2 separate regions of the Homo sapiens genome follow, and region 2 is linked to region 1. Evidence: fine-mapped expression QTL. A gene starts in region 1. The other region holds a variant in brackets. All regions are shown on one strand. Distances are between the middles of the regions. Region 1 holds the start of PEX6 (peroxisomal biogenesis factor 6). Region 2 overlaps PTK7 (protein tyrosine kinase 7 (inactive)).

Region 1 (4,386 bases):
AGTAGCTGGGATTACAGGCATGCACCACCACACCCAAACTTCACCTTTCACCTGAATGGATGAAAGCCTTTTGTATGCCCCACTACATTATGGAGGCTTATGATATTTTGATTACAGAATATGGATCAATAGGCCGGGTGAGGTGGCTCACGCCTGTAATCCCAACACTTTGGGTGGATCACCTGAGGTCAGGAGTTCGAGACCAGCCTGACCAATACGGTGAAACCCCGTCTCTACTAAAAATTACAAAAATTAGCCGGGCGTCGTGGCGCGAGCCAGTAGTAGGAGGCTGAGACAGGAGAATCGCTTGAACCTGGGAGGCGGAGGTTGCAGTAAGCCGAGATCGCATCACCACATTCCAGCCTGGGTGACAGAGCAAGACCCCATCTCAAAAAAAAAAAAAAAAAAAAAAAAAGGAAAGAAAGAAAAAGAAAATAGATAAATGAGGCTAAGAAACATTATGCTTTTTTTTTTTTTTTTTTGAGACAGAGTTTCACTCTTATCGCCCAGGCTGGAGTCCAATGGCGCGATCTTGGCTCACCGCAACCTCCGCCTCCCAGGTTCAAGCGATTCTCCTGCTTCAGCCTCCCAAGTAGCTGGGATTAGAGGCATGCACCACCACGCCCGGCTAATTTTACATTTTTTTAGTAGAGACGGGGTTTCTCCATGTTGGTCAGGCTGGTCTCGAACTCCCGACCCCAAGTGATCCGCTCGCCTCGGCCTCCCAAAGTGCTGGGATTACAGGCGTGAGTCACCGCGCCCGGCTAGAAACATTATGTTCAAAGTCCGGGATGATATGGGGCACGAGTCCTAAATCTTCCAATTTACCTAAGACAGAGAAGAGGGTATAAGAAAGAGGAAGCACTCCTGACCCCAGTCCTTTATCCTACCTGAATTCTGAGCTCTCCCATTTCCAGGGGGTCACAGCCAAGATTAAAAGCCAAAGTGGCAGGGACAAGCGCCAGTCCGTCAGCGAGGGGCTCTCCCAGCGGTCCAGAGCCGGGTCCCAGTCTATCAGAGAGGTCCCAGCGAGGTTCTAGGACCTGCACCCTAGCCAAGTGCGGCTGTGAAGTGTTCGATGACTCTCTGGCCTGGGCCACCCACACCCATTCGCCCTGGAAGAGGCCAAGGCCACGGAGACAGCTCCGGCTCACCCCTAGTGAATCTCCAGTCCCTCCCAGAACTCCCTGGAGTCGCCGCACTGTGCCAGAAACCGCAAAGGAGGACACCACGGGCGGGGGTGGGGGCCGACTGCTGTCCCCAGACTCTGGACACAGTCTGGCCCGCCCGCGGAGCTCAGTCACAGCCAGCCGAGTCCCTGGGCCCAGCAGCCCTTGCAACGCCGGCCGCGTCTCCAGCACCCGCGGTCCGGGCACTGGGAGGGTCTCTCCGCGCCTCACCAGCAGCGGCCCGACTCGCGGTCCGAGCCCAGGCCCCAGCGAGGTGCCAAGCAGTGCCCAACCTAGCGCCGGGGGCCGCCGCACCGCCCGCGCCCGCACCCAGGCCCCGGAGCCCAGTGCCAGGAGCCGCAGCAGCGCGCGGCTAACCAGTAGCTGCGGCGGCCCGGGACCCTGCTCTTCGGTGCCCGCGTCCGGCCCCTCCAGGGCTGCCACCAGCAGCGCCGGCCCTGCCGGGCTCTCCCCTGCAGGCCTCAGGGCCAGCACCAGGCCCAGCTCCGCCGCCGGCCACGGGCCCCCGGGTGGCAGCAGCACTGCCAACGGGGGTGTCTCGGTCGGAAAGGGCTCCAGGACCCGCAAGACAGCCAGCGCCATGGTGACAGGACACCAACGAGGAGGGTGAAGGAGCGCAGCTTCCGGAGCCAGAGAGCCAGACGACTAGTGTGCGCGAGGGCCGCTTCCGCTTCCGTCAGGGGAGGCCAGAGGAAAAGGGGAGGGGGGTCGGGTGCCGCGAACTTGCTCTGAGGGGGTTAGCTGCGCCTCGGATTGATCTGCGTCGTGCCTCGATAGGCAGTAACCTTCATCGCTGCGGTTGCGTAGCGTTTACCCATGCGCCATTTGAACTTGTGCTTAAGGGATTTATCTTTGCCTTCTACGGAAGTAATGTTCTCTTAACTATTTTTCCCCGTGGCATGAACGTAACAGTTTATTGACTGATAAATGAACAGTCAGCATGCTCGGGATGACTGGGCCCAGTACTGGGAGCTCTAGGTGAAATGTTTCGGAAGGAGTCCGCTCCTCTGCGGAGCTCCTGCAGCTTCCCCTGTGGAACTGTGAGCACTGAGGTTTGAGGGTTGCAGGAAAGGTTGCAGGAGGGAGTAGCAGGATTAGAAAACTGTCTCACACTTGCTTATAGGTATATAGTGGCTGCTGAGTGAATTACTAGATGTGATTCATACAGCCCTGGAGTGCTTGGTGCCACCACACATGTTCCAGCACATCTGGCACAAAACCCATGTTCCAGGACTTCTTGCCCTGTTCATTGTTCTGTTTGTTTTACTCCCACCAAACTTAAGTTGAAGACAAAACAGCTTTTCTTTCACCCCCCCCCCCCAAATCCTTGCAGATCGGAAACCCATTCACTTTCTATCCTAGAGCGGGGCAGGCAGCAGAGCAGGCAGAAGGAAAGGAGTTCAAGGCTTCTGTCAGCATAACACCAACAGTCGACTTCCTGCGTGTGCTGTTATTTAGATTCCATCCTTCTCTTCACCTCCACTGTTCTGTACAAGACACTCAGCTAGTGGTAGGCCACATTTCCTTTTTTATGGCAACAGGGTCCTACTCTGTCACCCAGGTTGGAGTACAGTGGCACGATCCCCATTCATTGCAGCTTCTACCGTCCCAGGCTCAAGTGATCTCCCACCTCAGCCTCCCGAGTAACTGTAGCCGGGACCACAGGCACACGCCACCATACCCAGCCAATTTTTTTTTTGAGACGGAGTTTCGGTCTTGTTGCCCAGGCCAGAGTGCAATGGCACGATCTCAGCTCACTGCAATCTCCGCTTCCCAGGTTCAAAGAATCTCCTGCCCCAGCCTCCCAAGTAGCTGAGATTACAGGTGTGTGCCACCACACCCAGCTAATGTTGTATTTTCAGTAGAGACGGGGTTTCACCCTGTTGGTCAGGCTGGTCTCGAACTCCTGGCTTCAAGTGAGCCACCTGCTTACGCCTCCCAAAGTGCTGGGATTACAGGCATGAGCCACTGCGCCTGGACTAATTTTTTATTTTTTGTAGAGACAGAGTTTCTCTGTGTTGCCTAGGCTGGTCTCAAACTCCTGGTCTGAAGAGATCCTCAGGCCTCAGCCTCCCAAAGTGCTGGGACTACAGGCATAAGCCATCATGTCCCACTGCATTTCCAATTATTAACAATTATTTTCACTTACAATAAATGAATTGGATGGTGCCAATCTCCATTTTCTAGACCTTACATTCTCTTTCAGCTACTGCTCAGCTTTCTCCATCTCTCCTTTCTTCTTGAGGCAGTCTTCTATTTTGTACATTATACATTCCTGAAAATTTGAAAGACAAATATATGAAAACTATTAGATTTGCATATTATAAGGGGCTGGGCGCAGTGGCTCATGGCTGTAATCCCAGCACTTTGGGAGGCCAAGTGGGTGGACTGCTTGAGGCCAGGAGTTTGAGACCAGCCTGGCCAACATGGTGAAACCCCGTCTCTACTAAAAATACAAAAATTAGCTGGGTATGGTGGTGTGTGCCTGTAGTCCCAGCTACTCGGGAGGCTGAGGCAGGAGAATGGCGTGAAGCCGGGAGACAGAGCTTGCAGTGAGCCGAGACTGCGCCACTGCACTCCAGCCTGGGTGACAGAGTGAGATTCCGTCTCAAAAAAATAAATAATAGAAAAAAATAAATAAAATAGCATGCAAGAATGTACTAACCAGGAACCATGGCTTGTGTCTATAATCCCAGCTATGGGGAGGCTGAGGCAGAAGGATCACTTGAACCCAGGAATTTGAGGCTATGATTGTGCCACTGCACTCCAAGTGGGTGACAGAGCAAGACCTTGTCTCTTAAAATATATAAAATTAAAAGAAAAAAAAACTAAATAAAGAATGTTCTAGGTACCTAGATTCACATGGATGAAAGTTCCCATTTGGTAGTGCTACTATATGTTTCTTGGTCCCCTATGTCCCAGAGGAACCAAGGGCTAGATAGATGGTACATGGGCCTAAAGAGGATATGCCTGCTTTCCTCAGTAGCAGGCAAGCTCTAGGCCTCAGGACTATAGTGCTCCTTGAGGCCTTGGAGATGGGTAAAAACATCAGTTATCTTGCCTGGATCAGCACTCATACAGACACAAATACCCACCCACAAATAAATGTCCTTTTCTCCCAAGCTTTTCTCCCAGCAGGTAACAGCGGGCATGTAGTCCACTTTGTGTTACCCTGAAATCGTCATTAGTCACCGAA
Region 2 (4,386 bases), 110 kb after region 1:
GGAGAAACGTGAATCAGATGAAGTATGAAAGACACCATTTGGTAAAGTGCTAAGTAGAATAGAAGAACATTCTAGAATGTGTGGGATGGTAAGTCTGAGATGTAGGAGCAAATAGGGGGTGGGAGGGCTTCAGAGAGGAGAGAAGACCCTACATTGCTGAATAGATGTAGTCAGTGACGGCCTCAGAATGATGAATAGATGTAGTCAGTGACGGCCTCAGAATGATGTAAAGTCATCGGACCAGGATTCTGAAAACCTGGGTGGTACTGTTCTAATATCACATGGCAGCCACAAGTGATGAAGTAATAGAAGAGACATCTATAGACCTGTGACACCAGTTTTTCTGTATTCTGGTCCTGGCTCAATTGCTGCATACCCACATGACCCTGAGCTGGTTAGTTAACCTTTCTGAGCCTCAGTTTCCTCGTGAGCACAATGCAAGTGATGCTGTTGCCTGCCTTGCTGGCCCCTGTGAAGTTGTGATATAATGCTCTTCAACTGTGGAAATGGGTGACCCCTGGGAAGCAGCCCCTCTGGCTAGCCCTGATGGTTCTTCCCAGAGACTGTCCTGGCCAGCCGTTTCCTTTTGAGGGGTCAGCCTTTCTTTTTTGAGATGGAGTTTCTCTCTGTCGCCCAGGCTGGAGTGCAGTAGTGCGATCTCCACCTCCCGGGTTCGCGCCATTCTCCTCCCTCAGCCTCCCGAGTAGCTGGGATTATAGGTGCCCGCCACCATGCCCGGCTAATTTTTGTATTTTCAGTAGAGACGGAGTTTCACCATATTGGTCAGGCTGGTCTTGAACTTCTGACCTCGTGATCCACCTGCCTCAGCCTCCCAAAGTGCTGGGATTACAGGCATAAGCCACTGTGCCTGGCCAGAGGTGTCAGCCTTTATTTCCAGCCTTCGGACCCTAGAATGGTTTGCCAAAGGCTCAACAAAGTCCCTCTTGACTAGCAGCCTTAGAAATGGTTTTCTCATTTGGGCTGGGTGCGGTGGCTCACGCCTGTAATCCCAGCACTTTGGGAGGCTGAGGCATGTGGATCACCTGAGGTCGGGAGTTCGAGACCAGCCTGACCAAAATGCAGAAACCCCATCTCTAGTAAAAATATAAAATTAGCCGGGTGTGGTGGCGCATGCCCGTAATCCCAGCTACTCAGGAGGCTGAGGCAGGAGAATCGCTTGAACCCGGGAGGCCGAGGTTGTGGTGAGCTGAGATTGCGCCACTGCACTCCAGCCTGGGCAACAAGAGCGAAACTCTGTCTCAAAAAAAAAAAAAAAAAAAAACATGGCTTCCTCATTCAAAAGCACAAGTTTTCTAAATGGGTCTCAGTATTCCAACAGCAGCCCAGAAATGTGGGAGCCACACACAGCCACATTTTCCTGGTGGGAATTCTCCCTCTCTCTTTGTCTCAATAGCAGATTCTCCCAAGGGGTGGGTTGGTGCTGGTTCAGGGCCACTGTCTCTCCTGGCATGCTGAGGTTCTCAGGGAGTGGGTAGTGAACTGTGCTTCAGGCAGCCTAGGCAGACTTTTATGATACCCAAGGGAGGGGTTTTTATAATCACTGGATGACTGTGGGGGTTTCCCCAGTCAGCGACTCTGTTAATTTGTGGGAACTTCTGTCTGTGCTGTGGGGAGGTTCCTGAGATTCTGTGTGGCCAAGGGCAGTGGGCTCTCCCTGGGGGTGGTTATGGGGGCCCGCATGGGCACTATCATGTACAACCTCCCCTCCAGGAGACACTCTGGCTTTTTTTTTTTTTTGTCTCCTCCTTGGGGTGGTGGCGGGGCAATGAGGGGAACGCTTGTCTGCTTTGGGACTGCTGAGGTGTCCCAGCAGCTAGCTCGTATGGTACCTTTGTGCACATTACAAATAAGTACTCCCAGT[C/T]GTGGGCGCAGTGGCTTACGCCTGTAATCCCAGCACTTGGGAGGCAGAGGCAAGTGGATCACTTGAGCTCAGGAGTTTGAGACCAGCCTAGGCAACAAGATGAAACCCTGTCTTTACAAAAAATACAAAAAAACTAGCTGGGTGTGGTGGTGCACGCCTGTAGTCTCAGCTACTCAAAGGCTGAGGCAGGAGGATTGCTTGAGCCTGGGAGGTCAGAGCTGAAGTGGGTGAGCTGTGATGTGATTGCACCACTGCACTCCAGCCTGGGCACCTGAGCGAGACCCTATCTCAAAAAAACAAAAAAACAACAACAAAAAAACCCTTCCTCCAGGTAGATGCAGTCCTGCACCAGGGTTCAGGCAGTATTTCAGTGTTGACTCTTTGGTCAGACATCTTGAGCAGTGCACAACCTGTACAGTCAAAGGTGGCTGTTCCATTGGCATGAAGGCCTTGCAGCTGTGGCTCTTTGTTTCCCAGCTGATGGGCCAAGATGATTTTGATGCCTCTGTTCTAAAGTCATGTTTCAAGTGAGCCCTCTTCACTACTGTTCTGCCTCCTATGGTGGTGGGATGGGGCAATCCTGCCTGTAACATACAATAGGAGAAGCCGGTGAGGGTGGAGCCCCATTACTGTACCCACCCCACATTGTATATCTGTGGCTGCTGAAGTCTTGACCTATTTCTGGGCCCCTTCCCTGTGAGAGGATTTTGCTGTCTTGCAGATACAGGCTCCTAGCCTTATGTGATAATTGGTGTGGAAGGCTGGCAGAATCCTTGGGAAGAGTGGGCCGCAGAGTTTATTTCACATTTTATTTAGGAGCTTTCAGTTTTCCTTTCTCTTGTTTCCTCTCTCCCTGGGGACACTAGGGTCTCCAGGTAAAGTGTGTGGGCATTCCTGATTTAGAGGAATTCCTGCAAGAGAAGTGGCAGGACCTCAGTCCCAAAGGCAGGTCTTGGGTCTTGCTGAGCTCCAGCGCTGGGTATCCTGGTGATGTTCATACCTCTTGAGCCTGAGGAAGCACCAGGAGGAGCACTAGGGTCAGTGTTGGAAGACATGGACTCTCCTTCCACATTTGCCTAAAACTGCCTGTGTGACCATGGGCAGGTCCCATCCTCTTCTCCAGGCTTCAACTTCAGAACAGAAGACCTTGGAGGGCCCTTGCTGAGGCTCACTCAGTGTGGCATCTCCAGCCTTGTTTCTGCCACACCTTACAGGCTCTCCTTACCCTGGGTTTAGGGAGAGCACTTTAATCTAAGGGCTGCTTTTTATTCTGGAGTCTCTAGTGCGTGGGCACAGATGTGTTTAGACTTGACCAACTGGTGATGTGGGTATTAGGGTATAATTTTCTGGGTGCAAAGGGTGCTGTAAAGATTTAGGAGGGAGAGTATTTGACAGGGAAAGAAACTGAGGCACAAAAGTACGATCTGCCTAGCACTACAGAGCTGGTGAGGAATAGGGCTGAAGCCAGTGTGGTGGTTCACACCTGTAATCCTAGCACTTTGGGAGGCCAAGGCGTGAGGATTGCTTGAGCCCAGGAATTTGAGACTAGCCTGGGGAACATAGCGAGACCCCATCTCTACGGAATAGAAAATAAAAGAAAAATTAGACAGCAGCGGTGGCACGTGCCTGTGATCCCAGCTACTTGGGAGGCTGAGGTGGGAGGATCACTTGAACCTGGGAGGTCAAGGCTACAGTGAGCCAAGATTGCACCACTGCACTCCAGCCTGGGCAACAGTGAGAGACCTTGTCTCAAAAAACAAAGGTAGAAAGCTGAGACCAGAGTGCCAGTCCCTCCTGTGCCTTCACTTAGAGTCCTTGTATGTCCAGGTGTTACTGTGCTATGATATGCTGCACACGTGGCCAATTGCCGTGGCTCATACCTGTAATCCCAGCACTTTGGGAGGCCGAGGCGGGTGGATCATGAGGTCAGGAGTTCAAGACCAGCCTGACCAACATGGTGAAACCCAGTCTCCACTAAAAACACAAAATAAGCCAGCTGTGGTGGTGCATGCCTGTAATCCCAGCTACTCGGGAGGCTGAGGCAGGAGAATGGCTTGAGCCTGGGAGGCAGAGGTTGCAGTGAGTTGAGATCATGCTACTGCATTCCAACCTGGGTGAGAGTGAGACGCCATCTCAAAATAAATAAATAAATAAATAAATAAATAAATAAATAAATAAAGAGTTATGGTGAAACTATATGTAATCTAAAAGGCTAGAACACTGTGCCTAAATCCCGATGGCTTGAGCTTTTCTCATGAACCCATGAGTCCTTAGCCTCCTCCTCCTGGTGCTGCTGGAAGGTCACAGGCAGTTGCAGGCCCTGGCTTGTAGGTGCATTCCAGACTATTGCTTCCTGCTGGGAGATGTATGCTGAGCAGTGCTGTGGTGGAGACCACGTAGGAGGTAATAGAGTCATCCCCATAGTGGTTAATAGAGTTAGCCACCTCATACTACTTTTGTGTAGGTAGATGTGCCCACGCTTGGTGCTCCAGGCCCTGCCTCAT

Evidence for each region. PIP is the estimated chance that this variant, and not a neighbour inherited with it, causes the effect. A credible set is the group of variants that fine-mapping cannot tell apart.
Region 2: its variant is the best candidate, but not a certain one, in a credible set for the expression of PEX6 in whole blood (INTERVAL, PIP 0.80).

Annotation. Positions count from the first base shown.
Region 1 is chr6:42,977,379-42,981,764 of GRCh38, forward strand. It overlaps PEX6 (peroxisomal biogenesis factor 6), which reads right to left and starts at 1,803. Exons shown (of 17, transcript NM_000287.4): 1 at 891-1,803. The coding sequence starts at 1,772. LOC124900215 (a long non-coding RNA gene) reads right to left here. Exons shown (of 2, transcript XR_007059580.1): 2 at 3,164-3,465. RefSeq lists enhancers at 1,063-2,004, 2,165-2,214 and silencers at 1,375-1,754, 2,409-2,605, 3,844-4,062.
Region 2 is chr6:43,084,673-43,089,058 of GRCh38, forward strand. All of the region lies in intron 1 of PTK7 (protein tyrosine kinase 7 (inactive)), which reads left to right. Among named protein-coding and RNA genes, the nearest start is that of PTK7, 11 kb to the left of the region's middle. The variant C/T (reference allele first, on the strand shown) is at 1,883.